Homo sapiens: one gene and its partners. The protein of the gene in region 1 purifies or fractionates together with the protein of each later gene. This does not show direct contact. Each region holds a gene or a part of one and is shown in the gene's direction. Other genes may lie near its edges.

Evidence for each region. The genes of interacting proteins can lie anywhere in the genome.
Region 2: the proteins of DUSP8 (region 1) and ANKMY2 purify together in Homo sapiens (affinity purification with mass spectrometry, with the first as the bait; one large-scale study listed by BioGRID). This does not show direct contact.
Region 3: the proteins of DUSP8 (region 1) and SPIN1 purify together in Homo sapiens (affinity purification with mass spectrometry, with the first as the bait; one large-scale study listed by BioGRID). This does not show direct contact.
Region 4: the proteins of DUSP8 (region 1) and TIPRL purify together in Homo sapiens (affinity purification with mass spectrometry, with the first as the bait; one large-scale study listed by BioGRID). This does not show direct contact.

What each region holds. Positions count from the first base shown.
Region 1 is NC_000011.10:1,565,439-1,569,495, reverse strand, and holds part of DUSP8 (dual specificity protein phosphatase 8), read left to right. Parts: exon of another isoform or gene 1-1,547; intron 1,548-3,561; 5' UTR 3,562-3,669; coding exon 3,670-3,900; intron 3,901-4,057. UniProt on the Homo sapiens protein: Has phosphatase activity with synthetic phosphatase substrates and negatively regulates mitogen-activated protein kinase activity, presumably by catalysing their dephosphorylation.
Region 2 is NC_000007.14:16,638,933-16,642,989, reverse strand, and holds part of ANKMY2 (ankyrin repeat and MYND domain-containing protein 2), read left to right. Parts: intron 1-4,057. UniProt on the Homo sapiens protein: May be involved in the trafficking of signaling proteins to the cilia.
Region 3 is NC_000009.12:88,464,709-88,468,765, forward strand, and holds part of SPIN1 (spindlin-1), read left to right. Parts: intron 1-3,663; coding exon 3,664-3,897; intron 3,898-4,057. UniProt on the Homo sapiens protein: Chromatin reader that specifically recognizes and binds histone H3 both trimethylated at 'Lys-4' and 'Lys-9' (H3K4me3K9me3) and is involved in piRNA-mediated retrotransposon silencing during spermatogenesis.
Region 4 is NC_000001.11:168,199,051-168,202,931, forward strand, and holds the end of TIPRL (TIP41-like protein), read left to right. Parts: intron 1-852; coding exon 853-996; 3' UTR 997-3,059; downstream 3,060-3,881. UniProt on the Homo sapiens protein: May be a allosteric regulator of serine/threonine-protein phosphatase 2A (PP2A). Isoform 1 inhibits catalytic activity of the PP2A(D) core complex in vitro. The PP2A(C):TIPRL complex does not show phosphatase activity.

The sequences.
Region 1 (4,057 bases):
AGCCCACGCGTGTGCACATATTCACGCGTGGGTACTTGCACACAGGGCAGGTGGATTGTGGGTAAGGAGCACCAGCCCTGTGTGTGGAGTGGGTGTGCAAAGAGGTGTGTTCTGGCACGCACAGAGGGCAGTGTGCACGCAGCACTGGAGCCAGGCGTGCTGTGTCCCAGGGGAGGGTGGCGGCCTGGTGCCTCCTGGAAGGTGTGGGCCTGGGAGGAGCCTTCTTCTGACTTTGGACTTGGAAACTGCTTCCTCCTGGGCTCAAAGACTTTTGAAAAGGGTGTATGGGGCTGTGCTAGGGGGCATCCTGTCCCCAGCCCTGCCTCTCACCCCCCAACCCCTAGGCACTGGAATAGCAGGGCCACAGGTACTCAGGAGGGCTTGGCATGTGGGGCCGTGAAAGGAGAGGCATGGAACCAACACCATCCACATTTCCTTACCTCTGTTCCCACATGGCCAGTGCTGGCCCCACTGATCTGCACCAGACTGTCCTTAGTGTCTCTGCTCCCCACCCCACCCAACCTGCCCCATCCCTGGCATAGCTGAGCCCCGATCCTTAGCATCTGGGGAGACAGAGGTGAGGAACATGTCCCCCTGGGAGCTGTAGGTCCAGGGAGACCCTGTGGGTGAGGATGCTCTCCCAGAGGCCAGCATGGCACAGAGGCTTCCTGCAGGAGGGGGCACTCGGCCAGCCCTTCGCAGTACAGAGAAGGCCTCTGAGGGGGCGGGGAGCCGGCGAGCTGCAGGGAGCATGCTGGGCACAGCAGGTACCTGGAGTGGGAAGGAAGGTTAGGACCAGGTAGGGCAGAGGAGCGGAGGGGCTGAGGACTGGGCTCTGCACTGCCGGGCACCTGCTGGGGTGGGTAGGAGAGAGCAGGGAGGGGCGCGTGCCCACTCTGCAGAGGAGCCTGCTCCATGGTGGTGGCTGCCGCAGGAGCAGCGGTTGCCTGGCACCTCTGCTGTTGCCATGGTGACGATGGAGGTGCTAACTTGCTAATGAATCCCCTTCGGCTGCAAATAACAATACTATTGTGGGTGATAGGCCCAGCTCCAGCTCAGCGTTGCTTAGGAGGCAGAGCAGGGCCAGGTAAAGGCCAGGACCCGTCCTCCCGCCCCTCCAGCCCCTGCCCACCACCCTGCAGCTGGACTTGCCCTCCTCCCTCCCCTCCCTCTGGGTCTCAGATCTGGCTGGCTGCACCGAGGTCTCTCATGGCAGTGTCAGGACTCAGGGCTGCATGAAGGCTAGGCCCTGGCTGCAGAGAGGGCGAGGGCCTCTCCTCACACCTGCCCTCCTCCCTGCACTGGGGGGTATTTGCTTCTGTTGTTTTCAGTGAGAGAGAATCCACCCCCACTTAACGGATGAGGACATTGAGGCCGGGGCAGCTCCTCAAAAGACCCCCAGCCCAAGTGTCCCTGCCACTGCAGCCTTCTCGGGGTTCTGGGTCTCTGAGCTGGACCCTTGGGTATCCTACGGGGCACCTGGAGCCGCTGTCTCACCAGAACCACACATCTGGGCCCTCGCCTCTCACCACCTGTGCAAGGCTCAGGTAGAACTCGGGAAGGACAAACAGCTCATCAAGGACCCCCTGTGGGTAGTCAGGGACCCCCTTGGCAGGCAGAGACCCTCCACAGCAGGCAGGCAGCAGGCCCTTTTGCTGTTGAACTTGCTGGGTCTGGCCCTGGAGAGGACTCCCAGGCCTCGTTCCCCACCCTGTGGTGGAGGCTGGAGCACCAGCCCAGGAACGTTATCTGAGTGGGATCCTGAGGCCCTGCTGACCAGGTGCCACTGCAATCCCTGGTGTCAGCCGTGGGGTCAGCTGAGGCTGCCCATCCACAGTCAGGTGTTTCCCTGGCCTCTGGCAACAGGAGGGATGGTGGGAATGCACAGAAGCCTGGGCCCAGTCGAGGCGGGAGGGGCCAGGCAGGGGCCAAGCTTGAAGTGTCTGGAGAAGGAGAGTGAGTGCGAGGCTGGGGCTCCTGGGCAGGGAGGAGCTGGGACCTGCCCCTCAGTGTGGAGTTGGGGCTGGGCCAGGGACGAGGTCCACACCAGCCTTGCACCTGCTGCTCTGTGAACTCTCTCACTGGCCCCCGCCGGCCTGGGAGCTGACCTGGAGAGTCCAGAAACGGTGGTGGCCTCTGTCCCCAGCCTGCTGTTTGCAGTGCATGGGTGTCCTCAGGGCGCCTCCCCCCAGTGCCTCCTGTGGCTGTGGGTTGGGGGTCTGGCTTGCTGAGGGCCCGCTACCCACCGTAGCCCGCTTTGCACAGGGCGCAGGGCCCAGGGTACATCTATCTCCCAGCCTTCCCTCAGTCCTGAGCTGGGTGGAGTAAACTTCCTGACTGCCTGGCAGCTGTGGGGGCACAGGGAAGATGGCATTGCAGGGACACCCAGTGCCCATCTGTGTGTGACCCAGGTGTGACCCAGGTCCCAACCCTGCCCCAAGCCTCGGTTTCCCCATAGTTAAAGCAAACTCATCATCCTTAACACTATGCGCCTCCTAGGGGCTGTGAGTGTAAAGTGGACCCAGAGGAAGGCCAGTCCTGGCAGGTGACAGGGAGATGGGGCCCGGCAGTGGGGCAGTGACAGGCTTGTCATCAAGCCTGCAGGAGGGGCTTCCGGAGACTCCATCCTCAGACATCCCTACTCCACCTGCCCACCCGGCAGTCTGAGGCCTTTGCAGGCCATGCCGAGGGCCTGGCACCTGCGGGGTCCCCGACACTGACCCTCCTCCCAGGGCTGCCCCGCCCCTCCCATCCTGGGCCCTATCAGCCCATGAAGGAGCCTCCTAGACCCCAGGCTCCGCTAGGGGAGAGGCACTGTGTGGGTGCAACACGCCCCTGCAGGAGCTGGGCACTCACCCCCAGCAGGCACGTGGCGCACACTAAACCTCAGCCTGCAGGTCAGGAGGGCAGCAGTGGCAAAGGAGCCGTGCCTCTGTGCCTGAGCCCCTCCCGCACCCGCCTGCTATCCGGCTGCCCCCGGGAGCCCACTCTCCAGTGGAGGCAGCCCCAAGGCCACCATCCACCAGGGGCTGGATTATCGGCTTACGGAGCTGCCCTGGAGTCAAGTCTCCAGGGATTGGACTCCCTGGGGCTGTGCTAGGGAGAGAGGGGCAGGTGTGAGGACAGCAAGCCCGGAGGAGGGCAGAGAGCTTGACCATGTGGGAGGGTGAGGTGCAGTCCAGACCCCGACTTGCTGGGGGTCCTGTGGTGGAAAAGATGCAGAAGTCACAGCAGGGAGATGCCTGTGTCCCAGGGATGAGATGGAATGTTCTGGAATGCCTAAGGGTCCGTGAACCCCAGGGCCCACAGGAAGGACCCCTGGCCTCTTCCAGCCCTCAGACCCTTCTCTGTGGGGCCCATTTGCCCCCCTCTGCCTTGTTGCATCCTGCTGAGAGCTGGCCTTGTGACCTGGACGGGGTCTCTCCAGAGGGAGAAGGGTTCCCACGGGCACATGTTGGTGTGTCCTGGTGGGCGCAGCTCCCAGCTCTGATCTGTCCTGGGGAGCTTCTGGGTGCCACCCAGGGGCCCGCAGCACTGCTGACCATCCCCCTGTCCCTGCAGGTCCAGCACCATGTGCTAGGTCACTCCCAGCGCGAGGCCACACCTGGGCCGTCGGAGCAGCCCCTCCTCACTTCAGGGGTCACCCTCCCCAGCACCCATTGCCCCACCATGGCTGGGGACCGGCTCCCGAGGAAGGTGATGGATGCCAAGAAGCTGGCCAGCCTGCTGCGGGGCGGGCCTGGGGGGCCGCTGGTCATCGACAGCCGCTCCTTCGTGGAGTACAACAGCTGGCATGTGCTCAGCTCCGTCAACATCTGCTGCTCCAAGCTGGTGAAGCGGCGGCTGCAGCAGGGCAAGGTGACCATTGCGGAGCTCATCCAGCCGGCTGCACGCAGCCAGGTACCCAGCCCACTGCCCACCAGGCATGCATCACGTCCAGGGTCCACAGCTAAGGGGCCCTCAGCTCGGGCAGCACCCCCCTCCTCTGCCTTCCAGTCCAAACTCGACTCCTTGGGGTCACAGCCAGGGGCGTGTGGAGCAGTCCTCCCTGGCACTT
Region 2 (4,057 bases), on another chromosome or scaffold:
TAGTGTCAAACAGGTAAGTGGCAGAAAGTGGCAGAGCAGAGGTATCACAGGGCCCATAGGTAATAAACAGGCTGTACCTAAAAACAAACTAAACAAAACATGAAACAGTACCATAGCAGTCCATACAATATTCACTTTGAGAGGTCATTTAGTTCTAGCAAAACAACATCTGTCAAGTTAACTCAGTTTTAAATGTTACTGATTTTGTAGTTCTGTGTGCATTAAATTTAAAGTAAATTTTTATTTTATAGTTGAAGAAAGGCCATAAGCAAAGTTTATATTTGTGCCAAAAAGAGGCATTTTTTTTAAAGTGGGTGAAGTGAGTTTTTTTTTTTTTCTTTCATACGTTTTTCAACTTTGAAAAACTCTAGATGAGACAATAAGTTCTAGTACTTTGAACTAACAACTTTTCAGCAAAGTCTAGCCTGGCATCTTGGTCAATCTGAAATAAACTCGGCAAATATTTAAGTGATTCCCATCTGCCAGCCACTGCTCTCCAGAAAGACAGACTCTAAGTGGGGCTTTTTATTTATTAGAATGCCAAGAAGTTCCAGATGAAAATGAAAATCTGTTTCCAACATACCCATTTAAATCATAGTTAATGACAGCATTCATTTAACAGTATGTAAGAGGAAATTGAAATCACTGAACTGTGTTTAACTGGCTTATATGACTTGTAGAGTTACCCATTCTTCTAAGCTTTGATACCTTTTTCATTAATCTCAGAGCAAGCACTATTATGAAATAAATTAAACCTTTTTTAAGGCTATGAGCTAGATAATTTTCACATTACTTCTCTTATTTAGTACCTGAAATTCCTGGGCTTACTGTTGCTAACAAGAAAGTATTATACTTCCTTTTTTTTTTTCATATCTGTGTAAAGGAGCTATGAAACAAGTTTGGATAATAAGGCTTTTTCTTACCAACTATTGAGATACAATAAATTGCACATATTACAGGTAGTACACACTTTTTAATCAGTTTTGATTTAAACATACATCTGTGAAACCATCAGTAAGATCAACATAATGAACATCTTCATCACCCCCTAAAAAGTCCTTATGCCTCTTTGTGATCTGTCACTAACTTCACCCCCATCTGCAGGCAACCACTAACAGATCTCTGCCTCTGTTGATTAGATTTCTCTATTCTAGAATTTTATATTAGTAGAATCATACAATAAGTATCCTTTTTTTGAGGGGGGGCTGGCTTCTTTCATTCAACATTATGATTTTGGGGTTCATATTTATTATGTGTACCAATAGTATGTAGCTTATTTTCTTCTTTTATTTCCAGTGGAAGGATATACTACTATTTGTGCATCCATTCCCATTGATGCCCAATTGTTGTTTCCAATTTGGGACTATTGAAATAAGATCCTGTTCTAAGGTCCTGTGTCGTTAATAATACTTCTGGTGTCTTTATGGTTGAGAAACATTCAAGTCTGCTTATAACCAATTATAGTACAGAGTTCAAAGAAAAAATTAAAATATATGGTTACCATTAGTTGGATGGCTGGACAGGTTATGCAACCTATATGGGCTTCATTGTCTTCATTTTCACAGCAACAGCTCTTTTAGATACTCCCAATTTTATACAGTGCTCTGTAATACTAATTTAAGATCATTTTTTTACAAAGTCTAAAAATAGATATGAGTAGGAGACCTTTTAGAAACATCGCACAAATTCACGATTTCAAAATGCATGTTATAATTAGAAGTCTCCACTATGTGTGTGTGTGTGTGTGTCTGTGTGTGAGACAGGGTCTCACCCTGTCACCCAGGCTGGAATGCAATGGTGCGCTCTCGGCTCACTGCAACCTCTGCCTCCCAAGTTCAAGCAATTCTCCTGCCTCAGCCTACTGAGTAGCTGGGATTACAGGCGTGCACCACCGCGCCCGGCTAATTTTTGTCTTTTTAGTAGAGATGGGGTTTCACTTTTAAAATATATTTATAGCTTTATATCTATGATTATATCAAAATCTATATCCATATGTTCTTGTTTTAAAATTAAGGCACTTTAAACATTTTTACATGATTTTACTTATACGTAAACACTATAACAACTAACAAAGCCAAATAGATTTCTAAATCCTTAACTTGATTATATATTCCTTAAAATATCCGTTTTCGTGGCTTCCAATAAATAATGATTGCAATCCAGCTGGACATAGTGGCTCATGCCTGTAGAGTGACCCCTCTGCACTTTGGGAGGATCCAAGAGGATCACTTGGACCCAGGAGTTTGCCACCAGCCTGGGTCTCAATATAGTGAGACCCCGTTGTTACAAAAAATGTAAAAATTAGCTGGGTGCGGTGGCGTGCACCTGTAGTCCTAGCACCTCAAGAGTCTGAGGCAGGAGGATTGCTTGAACCCAGGAATTCAAGGCTGCAGTGAGCCATGATCATGCCACTGCACTCCAGCTTGGGCGATGGAGGAAGGCCCTGTATCTATAAAAAATTAAAACAATAATAATGAATAACGATTGAAATCTATACGTGTTTGAATCTCATGGTTGTGTGATGAATTGCTGAAAACAGAATGTTTGTTTCTCCTGTTCTGTTTGTTTTGGCTGCATCTTCTTGTCTTTGGTAGAGACCCGTGTTCCCGATCTAGATATTAGAAATGTTACAATGAATTATATTGTGCTGCTCTGAATACAAAATAAAAAGAAGATCTAATAAAGGCTTATATGTGCTCCACATTAGGACACTCCTCAGATAACTGTGGGATGGATATTGTTATCCTTATTTCATAGATAAGGAAACTGAGAGTTTTACAGGTCTTTTTATTTACTTTTATTTATTTATTTACTTATTTTTTTGAGACAGAGTCTCGCTCTTGTCGCCCAAGCTGGAGTGCAGTGGCGCGATCTTGACTCACTGCAACCTCCTCCTCCTGGGTTCAAGCAATTCTCCTGTCTCAACCTCCTGAGTAGCTAGGACTACGAGCACGCACCACTACACCTGGCTAATTTTTGTATTTTTTTTTTTAGTAGAGATGGGGTTTCACCATGTTGGCCAGGCTGGTCTCAAACTCCTGACCTCAGGTGATCCATCCGCCTTGGCCTCCCAAAGTGCTGTGATTACAGGTGTGAGCCACCATGCCTGGCCAAGTTTTGCAGGTCTTGTTCCACTTTATAGTATTCCTGAAAAAGCTATAATGTAGTAGAAGAGAGAGCAGTAACACTAAGAATATCATTCTCTTTTGAGACAGGGTCTCACTTTATTGCCTAGGCTGGATTACAGTGGCATGATCATAGCTCACTGCAGCCTCAACTTCCTGGGCTCAAGCAATCCTCCCACCTCAGCCTCCTGAGTAGCTGGGACTACAGGTCCATGCCACCACACCTTGCTAATTTTTTAGAAAATTTTTTGTAGAGATGGGGTCTCACTATGTTGTCCATGCTGGGAAAATATTATGTACATAATCTTTTCTCTCCTAAAATGCTTGTTCATCCAGATAAAGTGATCAATTCCACCCTAATGAGGCAGGTTATGCTGTATTTTCTTCTTTGGTTTGAGCAGTTGGAGGAATTCTCTAAAGGGAAATAAATCACTAATTATTACTTTAATTAGTTTAGGTCTGTTGTTTCTTATCTCCAATGAAGGTAAATGTTGGCTCCTTGCACATCCCTTCTTATAGTACTCTATCTTCCACCCCCAGCAGTTTGTTAAATCAGATTTAACATATTTATTTCCCAGAATAAAGCAATTAATCTTTTACACTTACTTGTAAAATATTATTTAAGTCTACTATGGACAGTAGGAATGACATAAAGTAAAAATCCTTCTGTGTGAGCCATGTGTTTCACATTTCCATGCTATTCTGGACCTTCTATAATTTCCGACTAATGTCATTACATTGTGAACACCGAATTGGAAATCATCACAGTTTTTCCTCTTGGAGTGTTTTGCTCATCCATGTTCCAAATCTATTTTTACCCTCTAGAAGCCCAATCTGTTTCAGATTATTTTTCTCATTCCAGCCCCTGCATTTCAAAAGGCTAACCTTAGTGTGATTGTGGGTACGTGTACATGTAGGATATAATAAGAAAT
Region 3 (4,057 bases), on another chromosome or scaffold:
GTGAAAGAGCTATTCAAAGTGCAAGACTAACTACTTTTTTTTTAATTGTAAAAAAACATAGCATAAAATTTACTGTCCTAACCATTTTTAAGTGTACAGTTCAGTAGTGTGTTAAGTACATTCGCATTGTTGAAACAGATCTCCAGAACTACTTCATCTTACAAATCTGAAACTCTCTACCTATTAAACAAAACAACCTACCTTTCCTCCCATTCCCAGCCCCTGGCAACCACCATTCTACACTCTGTCTCTATGAATTTGACTATTCTAGATATCTCATAGAAGTGGAATCACACAGTATTTGTTTTGTGAGTAACTTATTTCACTTAGCATAATGTCCTCAAAGTTGGTTCATGTTGTAACGTGTGACAGGATTTCCTTTAAGGCTGAAAAGAACATTCCATTGTATCTATATACCACAGTTTGTTTATCTGTTCACCCATTAATGGACATTTGGATTGCTTCTACCTCTTGGTAGAATGTAAAATTGTACCATGTAAAATTGTGAATAGTGCTCCTGTAAACATGGATATGCAGATATTTCTTTGAGATCCTGCTTTCAGTTGTTTTGGATATAGGCACAGGAGTGGGATTGCTGGATCATATGGTAATTATAATTTTAATTTTAGTATCGTAATTCTAATTTCTTAGGTAGAACTACCATACTGTTTTCCACAGCAGTTGTACCATTTTCCAGTCCTACCTACAGTATACAAGGGTTCCAGTTCTCCATCCCTTAGTCAGCAGTTGCTATTTACTGTTTTTGTCATAGTGGTCATCCTGATGGGTGTGATACGATACCTCATTTTGTTTTGATTTGCATTTCTCTGATGATTAGTGATATTGAGCATCTTTTTATGTGCTTGTTGGCCACTTGTAAATCATCTTTGGGGAAATATCTACTCACATCCTTTGACCATTTTTTAATTAGGTTATTTTGATTTTTGTTGAGTTGTGAGAGTTCTTTATATGTTCTGGAGACATGAGTTTTAATGTAACAGTATGACAGATTTATTAATGGTTTCAGATTCTGCATTGTAACTAACCTTTAAGGAGCTAACTGTTGAATTCTGTGGTTTCATATAAGTATATCTAGAATTATCTGAAAGACGATTAGAATATTCTTTTCAGTATCATATCTTTGAGAGGCTGGATTTTATACCTGAACTGAAAGAGCAGATCATAACAGATTGAGTGCTAAAGCAGATATGAGAATCTACTTGTTCTTTTTAAAACCTAGACATTAGGAGATTTGCAAAAATGTAAAATTAAGCCACTCTTAATGTATTTTGATAGGAAATAGTTATTTTTAATTTAAAATGCATTGATATATAGGTATTTTTAAATAAATGTTTCTAGATTTGTTTTTCATTTTCTGAAGTAGTAAATATTGGTAGGCATTATCTATGTAAACAGATGCTTTTTTAGGTCTGTAGTAATTTCCATTTATGTTTTAATTTTTTTTTTAGAGACAGGATCTCGCTTTGTCACCCAGGCTGGAGTATAGTGGTGTGATCAGGGCTCACTGCTGTCTCAACACGTTGAGCTCAAACAGTCCTCCTGCCTCAGTCTCCTGAGTTGCTGGGACTACAGGCACTCACCACAGTACCCTGCTAATTTTTAACTTTTTGTAGAGATGAGATCTCATTATGTTGCCCAGGCTGGTCTCAAACTCCTGGCCTCAAGCAATCCTCCTGCCTGGGGCTCAAAGTGCTAGGATTATAGATGTGAGTCGCTGTGCCCAGCCAGTAATTTTTAAGAATGCACATGGAGTTCTGAGATCTAAGTCTGAGATCTACTGGCTTTAAGAAACTAGTGGGGTTTTTTTACTGTCATACACGGGGGGAATTCTGTGTAATTTTTTATTATTACTGCGTACTTAAAACCAGCCATACATGTTTAGGGTTTGCTGATAAAATTAAATAGCAATACATGTATCAAGAAAATCTCACTTTTTTGTTTCTTTTGATGTAACAGAAATAGAAGTTTGTTGAATGAGGAAAATAGGAGAGCTAATTGTTTGTTGTTGTTGTTTTTGTTGTTGTTAAGACAGGGCCTCACTCCCGTAGCCCAGGCTGGAGTGCAGTGGCGCCATCTTGTCTCACTGCAGCCTCGACCTCTGGGTTTAGGTGATTCACCACCTGAGCCTTCTCAGTAGCTGGGACTACAGGCCTGCACTGCCACACCTGGCTAATTTTTTGTATTTTTAGTAGAGACGGGGTTTTGTCATGTTGCCCAGGCTGGCCTCAAACTTCTGGGCTCAAGTGATTCGCCCGCCTTGGACTCCCAAAGTGCTAGGATTACAGGCGTGAGCCACCGTGCTTGTCTCTAATTGTTTGTTTGTTTGTTTGTTTGTTTTTTAAAGATAATTGTTTAAATTTGGTATAAAGACAGTTATCTAAAATTGTGGACTGGAGAAGTCTTAAAACCAATGGGATCCTTCATAGTTTTTCCAGTATTAAAAAGATGAAGGTGATAATTTTCACCACTTTTGAAAAATATTAAGGGCTAGGACCGTTAATCTATCATTTCAGAGACCTGAGCTCCCAACCACATGGGGTATCTGATTAAATCATACAAATACTGACCTGCTATGATCTAGGTATAAAACAAGAAAGGGAAGGTCTCTGCTTTCATGGGGATGTACAAGCAACTAACAAGTACACAAATAACATAAAGTGGGATAACTTTAGATCATGGTGAATGTTATTAAGAGGTAAAATTGGGTAATGTGACTGGGATTTGTGGGGCTACCTTGTTGGTCAGGAGAACTCCAAAAGGAACCGGCCTTCTGAAGGTATGGGGAAGAGCTTATCAGGCAGAGGAGAGTGTGTCCTAATGGGAGAGGAAGAAGAGCAGAGTAGAGAACGCATGAACAACAAGGAGGAAGATGGGAAACCTGAGGGCAGAGGCGTGAAGGCTTTTAGGGCTTGGGGGCTATGGTGAGCAGTTTGGTTGTTTTTCAAATTATAAAGGGAAGGCATGGGAACATTTTAGATCACACAATGTGGTATCAGTGACACAACGATTACTTTGGTTGCAGTGAAGAATAAGATTGTAGGAGCAAGAGAGTAAAAACCTATGCCTTAATAAAAAAATGGAAATAAGACTGAAGGAAAACAAACACCAATTTCTTTAAAAAAAAAAAACAAAAAAAAAACCCTCTGTGCCTTGAATAGCTTTTCTAAGTTTTAAATAAACGTTCTGTGGTTATGTAAGATGCTAATACAGGAGAAGCAAAGTGAACCGTATACAGGAACTCTACTATTTTTCCAGTTCTTCTGTAAGTCTGAAATTATCTCAAAATTTAACTGTTAAGTAAACAATAACAAACAGTATTTTATACCTTGAATGAACAATTAAAACTTTTGATTTGGGTACAGAACCAAGAGCAGATGAGTCCAGAAAAATAAAAAATCATATTTTTTTCAATTAACTGACTTGGGACAAAATACTTCTATTCTGTTGAATCCATCTCTGAGCTGGGGCCCAGTAGTTTGTCTTTGGTTTTTGTACTTTTTAAAGCTTTCCCAGATTCTGATGCTTGCTAATACGTTGCATGGACAAAATTTCAGGTGTAGCCTTCTTTAGTAAATTCAGTCTTCATAGTCGGTAATCAGCGAAACACTTTGTCAACTTTTTTTTTTTTTTTTTAATCCCCAGCGACATCTCGAATCAGCGATGCACACTTGGCAGACACAATGATTGGCAAAGCAGTGGAACATATGTTTGAGACAGAGGATGGTTCTAAAGATGAGTGGAGGGGAATGGTCTTAGCACGTGCACCTGTCATGAACACATGGTTTTACATTACCTATGAGAAAGACCCTGTCTTGTACATGTACCAACTCTTAGATGATTACAAAGAAGGCGACCTTCGCATTATGCCTGATTCCAGTAAGTATATATTGGCAACTTTTATATGTGATAATTAGAAGGGATTTGGACTTCAGTACAAGATATTTGATTGGCTCTTTTGCAGATACATTTTTATTTTTGGATATATGATTCTTTTAGTCATGCACAAACACAGCCTTTGAAATTTTTCATCCAGTTG
Region 4 (3,881 bases), on another chromosome or scaffold:
CCTGACCCCAACCACCCAAGTTTACATCCCTAAACCCATTCATTCACCTAATGGGGCTCTATAGGATAAATTCTATGGGAGCATAACTTTTCTGACCTTACCTCAAATACAAGAACATTTAGAGCTGCTAGGTACTTAAGCCTCATCTAATCTAATTTTCACATTTTGTTCTAGAGAAATTGAAACCCAGAGGTGTGACTTACTCTGAGTCACATAGCTGGCTGGTGATGGATGTTCTTTACACTTACCACCCTGCCGCCTTATTTCTTTCTACATAGTCTCCTTTTCTCTTCCGAAAATGTGGTGATTCTGTACCATAATTTGTTTGTTTTGGCATCATTTTTCTTTATTTTTTACTCCCCGGGACCTGTGAAGCCTTCCTTAGAACTTAGGATTCTATAATGGGTTGCTTAAAAATTGGTACCTTCCTATAAACTTGATTTTATTTTTTCACGCTTAGTATGTACTTCTGTCTGGGTATAGAGTATACTTGGAACAGAAAAGTTACTACTTAGATTCTATTGTAGACTACATGCTGTGCTCTAACCGAAGACTAGTGTTTTCAAGTTACAAAAGCAGGAGATACATAGGGTTGGATTAAGATGTATTAAATTCTTAGGACATTTGTGGGAACATTATAGATTATATAACCCTGTGATCTTTGATGAAATCATTCAGTAACAAAGTTGAATGATTCCGTATCAAGAAATACCTATTATTTTTAGGAGCACATATGCATATATTGCACCTGATTTTAAAATTTCCATGCTTTATGAATGCTTGAACCAAAACATTTGTAAAAAATTTCAGTACAGTAACTGAATATGCTAATATGATTTATGTATTTCCTAGCATGTTCCACCTTCCCTCTTCACGGAACCTAATGAAATATCCCAGTATTTACCAATAAAGGAAGCAGTTTGTGAGAAGCTAATATTTCCAGAAAGAATTGATCCTAACCCAGCAGACTCACAAAAAAGTACACAAGTGGAATAAAATGTGATACAACATATACTCACTATGGAATCTGACTGGACACCTTGGCTATTTGTAAGGGGTTATTTTTATTATGAGAATTAATTGCCTTGTTTATGTACAGATTTTCTGTAGCCTTAAAGGAAAAAAAAATAAAGATCGTTACAGGCAGGTTTCACTCAACTGCTGTTTGTACTGTCTGTCTTCACATTCATATTCCAGATTTATATTTTCTGGAGTTAAATTTGGATGATTTCTAAATTATCACAAAGTGGGACCTCAGCAGTAGTGATGTGTGTGTCTCATGAGCAGTGAGCACAGTCTGCATTCATCATGAAACACTATCTTCTACCAGGAGGAGGTTAATGTAAATCACCAAATCCCAATGCCTTGTGACTTTCATAGGATTCCTGATCATGCATGTTGATGTACTGGCTCTTCACTTTGGGCTTTCTGATGTTTATTCACACCTTTGGAGAGTTGCAACTTGCCACATACGAAATTAGTCTCATAGTGTAGTGAACTTCAACCCCAAAATTTTAAAAATGTATTTCCCCCCAGTTTTAAATTGCCTTTGAAATTTAAAAAAAAAAAATTTAGACTTAGTACCAGAACCAAAAATACCTAGATTTTTGGAGAACTTATTACATACATAGAAACATGAATATGGTTTACCACTGTGTGTGTGTAGGATGTTAGAATTATCTGTCCTCCATCTTTAGGTGCTTTTTCTTAAATGTGGTTCTACTTATACTGATATTTTTAATTTCCATCTTCCATGCAACCTCAGAGTGAATAAACCCCTTAAATTTGGTGCTGGTTCGAAAAAGTCTAAAGGGTTTATTAGGGGTTGTTTTTCGCAAATATTACATCAATCCTTAAAGCAACAAGATTAATTTTCTGCTTAAAATATTTGGGAAGATAGGTAAGGAGGAGGGGGTTTTAAAATATAAAAGCAAGTTTTTCTATTTTAAGGTGCATATTTGTAACATTACAGGGGATGAAGTAAAATGTAATTAATTAGCACAAGACTTAGGGAGTACAGAAAATACACAGAAGTAAATTTCAAATCCATTTGATTGTTTTCATAGTGACCCCTTAGTCATTTTATATTCTTGTCTGCCTTTCTAGAAAAATGGTTGTCATAAAGTGGAAAGTGATTAAAAAGCATCAAATAAGAAATTATTTCAAGTGGATTTTTAAAAATATTTTTTTGAAGGGCAGGGGGAAAATTCACCCCTTTTCTGATTTGAAATATGTTGTACATATTTCCATTTGATGGATAAATCATTAAGTAAGAATATTTGATTTAAAGTATTAGCCAACCTCTTCAGGTATTAGCCTGAAGATAAATTTTAACAAAACATATACACTTGGGTATCCGTCATTGCTCAAACTCTATAGTGTATTGCTGGAGCCAATAGGCAGGGTATATTTTATTAGCTAAATTTGATATTTGTCTTCTGCCTTCTGTATCACCTCCAAGCTATAGGAAATCAGGATTTTGTTGGCTTTAAGAAAACACATGGTATGTTCACTGTATATTAAATATACCTGTATTTAATGTTTTCTCTTAGGACAGAAAAGTAGACACACACACACACACACACACACATGTTGTGTTCAGCTTTCTGTTTTATATTATTTGCCATTGAGATTAGAATAGAACAGGCTCTATTCATGCAAACTATATGAAATGAAAAACTTTTAAGACTCTTCATTAATTGGAGCTTCTGGGCAACATCGTGTGTGTGTGTGTGTGTGTGTGTGTGTGTGTGTGTATACAGACATTTTTTTTTTAACTTGTTGATTCAGATGTCTTGGTCCCTGAATAGTCCTAGATTACTTATTTTGAGAATTCATTGTTAAAAATTACAGGGAATTAAAATAATTGCCTTTTTTTTTTTTAGAGGGTAAGAGATGGGTAGAAGAGTATGCCTCTGAAAATTTTATTAGTTTATTCTTGTGGAGAATACCAAGAAAATGTGTATTTGCCCATTGCTAAATATGATATATGCCATTTTGTATTTATTTGTCCCAAGTGTCTTTTTGTAAGAGGAGAATAAACAATAAGGAATTACTGATCAAAGTTTTACTATTTCATTTATTTGAGTTTTTCTTAGAGCTTAATTAAAGAAGTGTGGTTTGGGGTATACTTTTCTTATTTGTGCTTTATGTTTTGAACTCAGTCAACACTGTAGACAGTCTCCAGGCAGGTTATAAATTAAAACCTAACTGATGGTTCAGAATACAATTTCCCAGTTTGCATTTGGGCTCTTGCCTCTCCTCTCCCTCTGTTCATCAATATTTCCATGGATGTTTTTTAACAGTATTTTCTGTATGTTGGGTTAATGTTTTTGGTTTTTGAAAATATGAATACCTGTCGTATGTATTAGTTTTGAGTACTATATGTACAATTATGGTGCTAGGTATAATAGATTACAACAATGAAGCGATGTAGTATATGTTTTTATAGGATTAAAGTCTAATGGAGGAGACAAAGTAAAAAAATTACTAATTTTAATATGTGCAGTGATGGAAATGATACTGACAAGAGAGTAACAGAAAATCAACTAACTTTAGTAGAGGTAGTCAGAGCTCTGCTTCTCAAGAAGATGTGGAAAACCTCAAGAGACTGTCATTCCCATTTTAACAAGGAGAAAAGGCTGGGTCATCTATAAAATTAAAGCTTTTTTTCTTGAACATATCAAAGAACTGAAATTACAAGGCAAACAAACCAAATCCCAAAGAGTGATAAGCCCTACAAGGAGAGATGGGACATACTGACTGTTTAACCTTAGGAAGAACCCAAGAGAAAGAGATGGCCTTTATATAAACAGGTAAAATATTGGCAAAAATTTTAAGAAATTCCTAAAGTGTACATGTGGGCTAGCATACCAGTTTGG